Regions from separate parts of the Homo sapiens genome. Here all the other regions are linked to region 1. Evidence: fine-mapped expression QTL. A gene starts in region 1. Each other region holds a variant in brackets. All regions are shown on one strand. Distances are from middle to middle. Region 1 holds the start of GBA1 (glucosylceramidase beta 1). Region 2 overlaps MUC1 (mucin 1, cell surface associated). Region 3 has its middle 13 kb from the start of KRTCAP2. Region 4 overlaps HCN3 (hyperpolarization activated cyclic nucleotide gated potassium channel 3).

Region 1 (2,660 bases):
GGTGCCTACCAAGTGGTCAGGCACTGCACTTACCTCACTGACTGCAGTAACCACCCTTTGAGGTTGTGGCATTGCCTCCATTTTCCAGGCAAGGAAATGGGCTGAGAGCTGGGATTAGTCAGGTCATGACTGTGTGTGCCACTCCCGCTAAATCTCATTTGATGTGGTTCATGAGGCCACACCATGGACAGCTTCCTCCTTGTGTCCACTGAGGATATGGCTTTGTACAACACTTTGGTTTTTGAACGACTTTACAAACCTCCCTGTCTTGTGAGGAAGGAAGAACAGTTATTACCATCTGCATCTGATGATGAAACAAGGGACGCTGCAGAGGAGCCGCACTGACCACTCCCTCCCTCCAGTCCTGTCATCCCACTGCCAGTGTCCCACCCTCTTGTGCCCTGCACTTCACTGGCTAATAACCCCCCTCACTTTTTCCTCTGTGAAGCCATCCTGGATAATTCCCCACCCACGAATGGTCCCTCCTCATCTCAGAGAGCTCTCCATGCACACCTGTTACCGTTTCTGTCTTTATCTGTAAATATCTGTGTGTCTGACTTCCATGCCTCACACACCTCTATAGGGCAAAGACTGTCTTAAACATCTTGGTAGTGTCAGTATTTTGCACAGTGAAGTTTTTTTTTTTAAATTATATCAGCTTTATTTGTACCTTTTTGACATTTCTATCAAAAAAGAAGTGTGCCTGCTGTGGTTCCCATCCTCTGGGATTTAGGAGCCTCTACCCCATTCTCCATGCAAATCTGTGTTCTAGGCTCTTCCTAAAGTTGTCACCCATACATGCCCTCCAGAGTTTTATAGGGCATATAATCTGTAACAGATGAGAGGAAGCCAATTGCCCTTTAGAAATATGGCTGTGATTGCCTCACTTCCTGTGTCATGTGACGCTCCTAGTCATCACATGACCCATCCACATCGGGAAGCCGGAATTACTTGCAGGGCTAACCTAGTGCCTATAGCTAAGGCAGGTACCTGCATCCTTGTTTTTGTTTAGTGGATCCTCTATCCTTCAGAGACTCTGGAACCCCTGTGGTCTTCTCTTCATCTAATGACCCTGAGGGGATGGAGTTTTCAAGTCCTTCCAGAGAGGTAAGAGAGAGAGCTCCCAATCAGCATTGTCACAGTGCTTCTGGAATCCTGGCACTGGAATTTAATGAATGACAGACTCTCTTTGAATCCAGGGCCATCATGGCTCTTTGAGCAAGGCACAGATGGAGGGAGGGGTCGAAGTTGAAATGGGTGGGAAGAGTGGTGGGGAGCATCCTGATTTGGGGTGGGCAGAGAGTTGTCATCAGAAGGGTTGCAGGGAGAGCTGCACCCAGGTTTCTGTGGGCCTTGTCCTAATGAATGTGGGAGACCGGGCCATGGGCACCCAAAGGCAGCTAAGCCCTGCCCAGGAGAGTAGTTGAGGGGTGGAGAGGGGCTTGCTTTTCAGTCATTCCTCATTCTGTCCTCAGGAATGTCCCAAGCCTTTGAGTAGGGTAAGCATCATGGCTGGCAGCCTCACAGGATTGCTTCTACTTCAGGCAGTGTCGTGGGCATCAGGTGAGTGAGTCAAGGCAGTGGGGAGGTAGCACAGAGCCTCCCTTCTGCCTCATAGTCCTTTGGTAGCCTTCCAGTAAGCTGGTGGTAGACTTTTAGTAGGTGCTCAATAAATCCTTTTGAGTGACTGAGACCAACTTTGGGGTGAGGATTTTGTTTTTTTTCTTTTGAAACAGAGTCTTACTCTGTTGCCTGGGCTGGAGTGCAGTGGTGCAATTTTGGCTCATTCCAACCTCTGCCTCCCAGATTCAAGCGATTCTCTTGCTTCAGCTTCCCAGGTAGCTGGGATTACAGGCGGCCACCACTACGCCCAGCTAATTTTTGTATTTTTAGTAGAGACGGGGTTTCACCATGCTGGCAAGGCAGGTCTCAAACTCCTCACCTCAGGTGATCCGCCCACCTCGGCCTCCTAAAGTGCTAGGATTACAGGTGTGAGCCCCTGCGCCCGGCCAAGGGGTGAGGAATTTTGAAACCGTGTTCAGTCTCTCCTAGCAGATGTGTCCATTCTCCATGTCTTCATCAGACCTCACTCTGCTTGTACTCCCTCCCTCCCAGGTGCCCGCCCCTGCATCCCTAAAAGCTTCGGCTACAGCTCGGTGGTGTGTGTCTGCAATGCCACATACTGTGACTCCTTTGACCCCCCGACCTTTCCTGCCCTTGGTACCTTCAGCCGCTATGAGAGTACACGCAGTGGGCGACGGATGGAGCTGAGTATGGGGCCCATCCAGGCTAATCACACGGGCACAGGTAACCATTACACCCCTCACCCCCTGGGCCAGGCTGGGTCCTCCTAGAGGTAAATGGTGTCAGTGATCACCATGGAGTTTCCCGCTGGGTACTGATACCCTTATTCCCTGTGGATGTCCTCAGGCCTGCTACTGACCCTGCAGCCAGAACAGAAGTTCCAGAAAGTGAAGGGATTTGGAGGGGCCATGACAGATGCTGCTGCTCTCAACATCCTTGCCCTGTCACCCCCTGCCCAAAATTTGCTACTTAAATCGTACTTCTCTGAAGAAGGTGAGGAGGAAGGGGACAAGATGACATAGAGCCATTGAAACTTTTCGTTTTTCTTTTCTTTTTTTAAAATTTTTTTGAGGCAG
Region 2 (2,684 bases), 53 kb after region 1:
CGGACAACAGACCGGCTCCGGGCTCCACCGCCCCCCCAGCCCACGGTGTCACCTCGGCACCGGACACCAGGCCGGCCCCCGGGCTCCACCGCCCCCCCAGCCCACGGTGTCACCTCGGCCCCGGACACCAGGCCGGCCCCGGGCTCCACCGCCCCCCCAGTCCACGGTGTCACCTCGGCCCCGGACACCAGGCCGGCACCGGGCTCCACCGCCCCCCCAGCCCACGGTGTCACCTCGGCCCCGGACACCAGGCCGGCCCCGGGCTCCACCGCCCCCCCAGCCCACGGTGTCACCTCGGCCCCGGACACCAGGCCGGCCCCGGGCTCCACCGCACCCCCAGCCCACGGTGTCACCTCGGCCCCGGACACCAGGCGGGCCCCGGGCTCCACCCCGGCCCCGGGCTCCACCGCCCCCCCAGCCCACGGTGTCACCTCGGCCCCGGACACCAGGCCGGCCCCGGGCTCCACCGCCCCCCCAGCCCATGGTGTCACCTCGGCCCCGGACAACAGGCCCGCCTTGGGCTCCACCGCCCCTCCAGTCCACAATGTCACCTCGGCCTCAGGCTCTGCATCAGGCTCAGCTTCTACTCTGGTGCACAACGGCACCTCTGCCAGGGCTACCACAACCCCAGCCAGCAAGAGCACTCCATTCTCAATTCCCAGCCACCACTCTGATACTCCTACCACCCTTGCCAGCCATAGCACCAAGACTGATGCCAGTAGCACTCACCATAGCACGGTACCTCCTCTCACCTCCTCCAATCACAGCACTTCTCCCCAGTTGTCTACTGGGGTCTCTTTCTTTTTCCTGTCTTTTCACATTTCAAACCTCCAGTTTAATTCCTCTCTGGAAGATCCCAGCACCGACTACTACCAAGAGCTGCAGAGAGACATTTCTGAAATGGTGAGTATCGGCCTTTCCTTCCCCATGCTCCCCTGAAGCAGCCATCAGAACTGTCCACACCCTTTGCATCAAGCCTGAGTCCTTTCCCTCTCACCCCAGTTTTTGCAGATTTATAAACAAGGGGGTTTTCTGGGCCTCTCCAATATTAAGTTCAGGTACAGTTCTGGGTGTGGACCCAGTGTGGTGGTTGGAGGGTGGGTGGTGGTCATGACCGTAGGGAGGGACTGGTGCACTTAAGGTTGGGGGAAGAGTGCTGAGCCAGAGCTGGGACCCGTGGCTGAAGTGCCCATTTCCCTGTGACCAGGCCAGGATCTGTGGTGGTACAATTGACTCTGGCCTTCCGAGAAGGTACCATCAATGTCCACGAC[G/A]TGGAGACACAGTTCAATCAGTATAAAACGGAAGCAGCCTCTCGATATAACCTGACGATCTCAGACGTCAGCGGTGAGGCTACTTCCCTGGCTGCAGCCCAGCACCATGCCGGGGCCCCTCTCCTTCCAGTGTCTGGGTCCCCGCTCTTTCCTTAGTGCTGGCAGCGGGAGGGGCGCCTCCTCTGGGAGACTGCCCTGACCACTGCTTTTCCTTTTAGTGAGTGATGTGCCATTTCCTTTCTCTGCCCAGTCTGGGGCTGGGGTGCCAGGCTGGGGCATCGCGCTGCTGGTGCTGGTCTGTGTTCTGGTTGCGCTGGCCATTGTCTATCTCATTGCCTTGGTGAGTGCAGTCCCTGGCCCTGATCAGAGCCCCCCGGTAGAAGGCACTCCATGGCCTGCCATAACCTCCTATCTCCCCAGGCTGTCTGTCAGTGCCGCCGAAAGAACTACGGGCAGCTGGACATCTTTCCAGCCCGGGATACCTACCATCCTATGAGCGAGTACCCCACCTACCACACCCATGGGCGCTATGTGCCCCCTAGCAGTACCGATCGTAGCCCCTATGAGAAGGTGAGATTGGGCCCCACAGGCCAGGGGAAGCAGAGGGTTTGGCTGGGCAAGGATTCTGAAGGGGGTACTTGGAAAACCCAAAGAGCTTGGAAGAGGTGAGAAGTGGCGTGAAGTGAGCAGGGGAGGGCCTGGCAAGGATGAGGGGCAGAGGTCAGAGGAGTTTTGGGGGACAGGCCTGGGAGGAGACTATGGAAGAAAGGGGCCCTCAAGAGGGAGTGGCCCCACTGCCAGAATTCCTAAAAGATCATTGGCCGTCCACATTCATGCTGGCTGGCGCTGGCTGAACTGGTGCCACCGTGGCAGTTTTGTTTTGTTTTGCTTTTTTGCACCCAGAGGCAAAATGGGTGGAGCACTATGCCCAGGGGAGCCCTTCCCGAGGAGTCCCAGGGGTGAGCCTCTGTGCCCCTAATCATCTCCTAGGAATGGAGGGTAGACCGAGAAAGGCTGGCATAGGGGGAGGTTTCCCAGGTAGAAGAAGAAGTGTCAGCAGACCAGGTGAGCGTGGGTGCCAGTGGGGTTCTTGGGAGCTTCAAGGAAGCAAGGAACGCTCCCTCCTTCCTCTCCTGGTCTTTCTCTATGGGACCTAGTAAATAATTACTGCAGCCACCTGAGGCTGGAAAACCACTCCAGGTGGGGGAGGAGAGAGTTTAGTTTTCTTGCTCCTATTTTCCTCCTCCTGGAGACCTCCCTCTCTCGGCTTTACAAAGACACAGATACACCCCGCCCCCCAAAACACACACACACACACACACACACCTCCTTAGGCTGGAACAGCAGAGAATGGAGGGACAAGGGGGCTGATTAGAGCCAAGAAGAGGGAGTGAAGGAGAGCAGAGGGAGGAG
Region 3 (2,684 bases), 81 kb after region 1:
CGCAGGCCTGTAATCCTAGCCACTTGGGAGGCTGAGGCAGGAGAATCACTTGAACTGGGGAGGCGGAGGTTGCAGCGAGCTGAGATTGTGTCACTGCACTCCAGCCTGGGCATCAGAGCAAGACTCTGTCTCAAAAAAAAAAAAAAGAGAGAGAGAGAGTGAAAGATTAGTATTTAAATATTTAAATTGGTAGGGTTTAGGTAAAGCAGATTGCCCTCCATCCATGATGTGATTGGGTCTCATCCAGTCAGTTGAAGGTTCAAACAGAACAAACGACTGACCTTCCCTGAGCAAGAGGGAGTTTAGAAGCACGTAGCATTGAGACTTGAACTGAACCTTGACTCTTCTCTGGGTCTTCAGTCTGCCCACAACCCTGCAGATCTTGGATTTACCAGCCTCCATAATGGTGTGAAACAATTCCTTTTTTTTTTTTGGCAGAGATGGGGTCTCACTCTCACTTAGGTTTGAATGCAGTGGCACTGTTATAGGTCATGCAGCCTCACACTTCTGAGCTCAAGTGATCTTCTCATCTCAGCCTCCCGACTAGCTGAGACTACAGGCAAGCACCACCAGGCCCAGCTAATTTTTTATTTTTTATTTTTTTGTAGAGACGGAGTCTTGCTATGTTACCCAGGCTGGTCTCAAACTCCTGGGCTCAAGTGATCCTCCCACCTCGGCCTCCCAAAGTGCTGAGATTACAGGAGTGAGCCACTGTGCCTCTCCCTCTCTTTCTCTTGCCATATACATACACATGGAAAGAGAGAGAGTTCCTGAGGGGCAGCACCAGGATCACACACACACACACACACACACACACACACACCCTATTGGTTCTGATCATCTGGAGAACCCTTGACTAATACACCCTGTTTCAGTAAAATGAAATGGGGTTAAATGAAAGAAAGGCTAATCTGCTCAAGATTATACACAACCGATAAATGAAGGCGGAATTGGAGTTCACATTCAGATCCATCTGTGCCCACCATGTTGCTTAACCAGCATGACTACAGTGCATGGTTACAACACACCATCTGGCTCCTGCCACCTCTCTGATGTCGCCTCCTTGCTCTCTTCCCCACACTCACTCCATCCTGCCCCCAGACCCTGCATGTCCCCTGTGCCAGGCACGTTTCCACCTCGC[G/A]GCCTTTGCACTTGCTGTTCCTGTGCCTGAAACGCTTTCTCAGCAGATATCTACACTTCTCTCTTCTGTATGTCATTCAGGTCTCTGTGCAAATGTCTCCTTCTCAGACAGGCCTTTCTGATCGTGCTATATGACACAGTACAGCCTGTCACCTTCTAGCCCCTTACCTTGCTATACTTTTCTTCATAGTACTTTTCACTACTTGGTGAATATATGTTATTTTTATTTTTAGTAGAGATGAGGTCTATGTTGCCCAGGCTGACCTTGAACTCCGGCCTCAAGTGATCCTCCTGCCTTGGGCTCCCAAAGTGCTGGGATTACAGGTATGAGCCACTGGGCAGGTTTAGTTGGTATATTAAATGTTTATTTTTGTCTTGTCTGTCTCCCATCACTAGAGTATAAGGTTCATTGAAGGCAGAGAATTTGTCTATTTTGTCCACTAGAATGCTGTTTGGCATAGAGTAGGTGTTCAACAAATGTTTATTAAAAGAAGAACCAAGGGCCAGGTGCCGTGGCTCACGTCTGTAATCCCAGCACTTTGGGAGGCTGAGGCGGGCAGATCAGCTGAGGTTGGGAGATCAAGACCAGACTGACCAACACGGAGAAACCCCATCTCTACTAAAAATACAAAATTAGCTGGGTGTGTTGGCACTTGCCTATAATCCCAGCTACTCGGGGGGCTGAGGCAGGAGAATCACTTGAACCTGGGAGGTGGAGTTTGTGGTGAGCCGAGATCGCGCCATTGTACTACAGCCTGGGCAACAAGAGCAAAACTCTGTCTCAAAAAAAAAAAAAAAAGAAGAAGAACCAAGAACCCCATTGGCAACACACCACTCTTGTACTTTGAGCCCTTTGTTGAAACTCAACTTCTACCCTGCATCAACTCCAAATTGCTGAATCCTCAGAATGATCCAGATGTTTTTCTCAGCTGCTCAGACCTGTTCCTGAGTCTGTCCACCTTCAGGCTATCATATTTTCCCATCTTCGTCTCTTGTAGCTTACCTTCTCTAGGAAACCCTGACTCACCCAGCCCCTTCTCCACTACTCCCCTTTTAAAAGTTTGTCTGTGTTTTTGTTAATTGCATGTGCTTTTGTCCTGTTGCCCTATGGAACTGTGGGTGCCCTGAGGGCAGGGATGAAGTCAACACAACCTGACTACCTGAAACCTTCCCCAAGGACCTAGTAATTACCTTGACACCTGTGGACATCCAGAAATCCCTACTGCCTGACAGGCATACAAGGGGGGCTGCCCACCCCTCTAAGGGGTGGGGCCACTACTCAGGGACCAACTTGGTTCACACCGTTCTCCTGCCTCAGCCTCCCAAGTAGATGGGACTACAGGTGCCTGCCACCACGCCCCGCTAATTTTTTGTATTTTTAGTAGAGACGGGGTTTCACCATGTTAGCCAGGATGGTATCAATCTCCTGACCTCGTGATCCACCTGCCTCGGCCTCCCAAAGTGCTGGGATTACAGGTGTGAGCCACCGCACCTGGCGGTTTTATTTGTTCTTATTGGATAGATGGTCCCCAACTTATGATGGT
Region 4 (2,657 bases), 41 kb before region 1:
CCAGTTTTGGAGAGAGCTCACGCACGGAAGCCCCACCCATCTTCCCCACACTATAAGGTCACCAGGAGCCCCACCCATAGCATCTTCCTAGAGAAGTCCACCAGCCGCCCCGCCCCCTTCTCCCCCAACATCCCCCACCCACTGCCCCGCCCGCCATCTCCCCACCCCACCTCCTCCCACTGGTGTATGTAGCGGATGAGGCGGGAGAGGCGGAGCAGCCTCAGCAGGCTTAGGATCTTGGTGAAGCGAACGATGCGTAGGGCCCGTGCCGTTTTGTAGACCTCAGCGTCCAACCGTGGCTCCAGCTCCACCACTAGGAAGATGTAATCCACAGGGATAGAAGAGATGAGGTCAACCAGGAACCAGGTGCGCAGGTAGCGCGTGCGGATGGCCCGCGGTGCCAGCAGGATCTCAGCACCCTCCTCCACCACGATGCCCGTTCGGAAGTTGAGCACCAGATCCAGTAGGAAGAAAGTATCAGACAATACGTTGAAGACGATCCAAGGCGGGGAGTTCTCCTCCTTGAAGAAGGTGATGCCCACAGGCAGGACGATGAGGTTCCCCACCATCAGCAGCAGCATGATCAGGTCCCAGTAAAACCTAAGGTGGGAGTGAGATGAGGAGTAAGACCATGAGGATATTTCACCAGCCACTAGACTGACAGAAGATAGGCTGACATGGCCAAGAATGGGCAAAGATACACAATAACAGAATGACTGTTTACAGCTGTTGGGAGTATAAGTTGGGACCACCATTTGGGAAAATAGTTCAGCATTATCTAGTGAAGTTAAACATTTGCATTCCCTGCAACTCAGCAATCCCATTCCTACGTATAGACACATCCAAGGAAAATATGCGCTCCAGGAGATACACATAGGAATGTTTATAGCAGCATTAAATTTGAGAACAACACACATGTCCTTGTGTAGAAAAATGTAGACAGATAAGTAGATAAATACACTATTTATGGGCTGGCATACCATACAGCTGTGAAATTACCCAACTACAGCTACATTCAGCCCTATGGATGAATTTCACAAATGCAATGCTGAGCAAAAGAAGCAAGAAACAGCCTGGGCAACATAGTGAGACCTCATCTCAACAACAAATAAAAAAAATTAGCCAGGCCAGGTGGTGCACACCTAAAGTCCCAGCTACTCAGGAGGCTGAGGTGTACTCCAGCCTGACTGACAGAGCGAGACCCTGTCTCAAAAGAAAAGCTATGGCTCACGCCTGTAATCCCAGCGCTTTGGGAGGCCAAAGTGGGATCACTTGAGTCCAGGAGTTCAAGACCAGCCTGGGCAACATAGTAAGATCCTATCTCTACAAAAGTTAAAAATTAGGCCAGGCCTGGTGACTCATGCCTGTAATCCCAGCACTTTGGGAGGCTGAGACTGGCGGATCACCTGAGGTCAGGAGTTTGAGACCAATCTGGCCAACATGGCAAAACCTCGTCTCTACAAAAAATACAAAAATTAGCTGGGCATGGTGGCGAGAGCCTGTAACCCCAGCTACTCAGGAGGCTGAGGCAGGAGAATGGCATGAACCCGG[A/G]AGGCAGAGGTTGCAGTGAGCCGAGATCGCACCACTGCTCTCCAACCTGGGTGACAACAGTGAGACTCTGCCTCAAAGAAAAAAAGAAGAAGGCCAGGTGTGGTGGCTCACGCCTGTAATCCCAGCACTTTGGGAGGCCAAGATGGGCAGATCACAAGGTCAAGAGCTCGAGACCATCCTGGCCAACATGGTGAAACCCCGTCTGTACGAAAAATATAAAAATTAGCTGGGCATGGTGGTGCACACCTGTAGTCCCAGCTACTCGGGAGGCTGAGGCAGGAGAATCACTTGAACCCGGGAGGCGGAGGCTGCAGTGAACAGAGATCACGCCACTGTACTCCAGCCTGGGTGACAGAGCGAGACTCCATCTCAAAAAAAAAAAAAAAAAAATTAAAAATTAGCCAGGCGCTGGGTGCGGTGGCTCATATCTGTAATCCCAGCACTTTGAGAGGCCAAGGTGGGCGGATCGCCTGAGGCTGGGAGTTCGAGACCAGCCTGACCAACATGGAGAAACCTCATCTCTACTAAAAATACAAAATTAGCTGGGAGTGGTGGCACATGCCTGTGATCCCAGCTACTCAGGAGGCTGAGGCAGGAGAATCGCTTGAACCTGGGAGGTGGAGGTTGCCATGAGCCGAGATTGCGCCATTGCACTCCAGCCTGGGCAACAAGAGTGAAACTCTGTCTCAAAAAAAAAAAAAAAAAAAAAAAAAAAAAAAAATAGCTGGGCGTGGTGGCTCACGCCTGTAATCCCAGCACTTTGGGAGGCCAAGGTGGGCAGATCACAAGGTCAGGAGATTGAGACCATCCTGGCTAACACGGTGAAACCCCATCTCTACTAAAAAAATACAAAAAATTAGCTGGGCATGGTGGCGGGCGCCCGTAGTCCCAGCTACTCAGGAGGCTGAGGAAGGAGAATGGCGTGAACCCGGGAGGCGGAGCTTGCAGTGAGCCGAGATTGTGCCACTGCACTCCAGCCTGGGCGACAGAGCGAGACTCCGTCTCAAAAAAAAAAAAAAAAAATTAGCCAGGTGTGGTGGCGCGCACCTGTAATCCCAATCCCAGATATTCAGGAGGCCAAGGCAGGAGAATTGCTTGAACCTGGG

Evidence for each region. PIP is the estimated chance that this variant, and not a neighbour inherited with it, causes the effect.
Region 2: its variant is fine-mapped to the expression of GBA1 in whole blood (TOPMed, PIP 0.99).
Region 3: its variant is fine-mapped to the expression of GBA1 in whole blood (TOPMed, PIP above 0.99).
Region 4: its variant is fine-mapped to the expression of GBA1 in blood mononuclear cells (TOPMed, PIP 0.97).

Annotation. Positions count from the first base shown.
Region 1 is chr1:155,239,533-155,242,192 of GRCh38, reverse strand. GBA1 (glucosylceramidase beta 1) reads left to right here and starts at 944. Exons shown (of 11, transcript NM_000157.4): 1 at 944-1,107; 2 at 1,476-1,563; 3 at 2,116-2,307; 4 at 2,431-2,577. The coding sequence starts at 1,081.
Region 2 is chr1:155,186,382-155,189,065 of GRCh38, reverse strand. It overlaps MUC1 (mucin 1, cell surface associated), which reads left to right. Exons shown (of 12, transcript NM_001371720.2): 7 at 132-903; 8 at 1,003-1,058; 9 at 1,208-1,344; 10 at 1,490-1,611; 11 at 1,692-1,841. Among named protein-coding and RNA genes, the nearest start is that of MUC1, 5.2 kb to the left of the region's middle. The variant G/A (reference allele first, on the strand shown) is at 1,272.
Region 3 is chr1:155,158,730-155,161,413 of GRCh38, reverse strand. No RefSeq gene overlaps it. Among named protein-coding and RNA genes, the nearest start is that of KRTCAP2, 13 kb to the left of the region's middle. The variant G/A (reference allele first, on the strand shown) is at 1,142.
Region 4 is chr1:155,280,354-155,283,010 of GRCh38, reverse strand. It overlaps HCN3 (hyperpolarization activated cyclic nucleotide gated potassium channel 3), which reads right to left. Exons shown (of 8, transcript NM_020897.3): 2 at 171-600. Among named protein-coding and RNA genes, the nearest start is that of HCN3, 4.2 kb to the right of the region's middle. The variant A/G (reference allele first, on the strand shown) is at 1,552.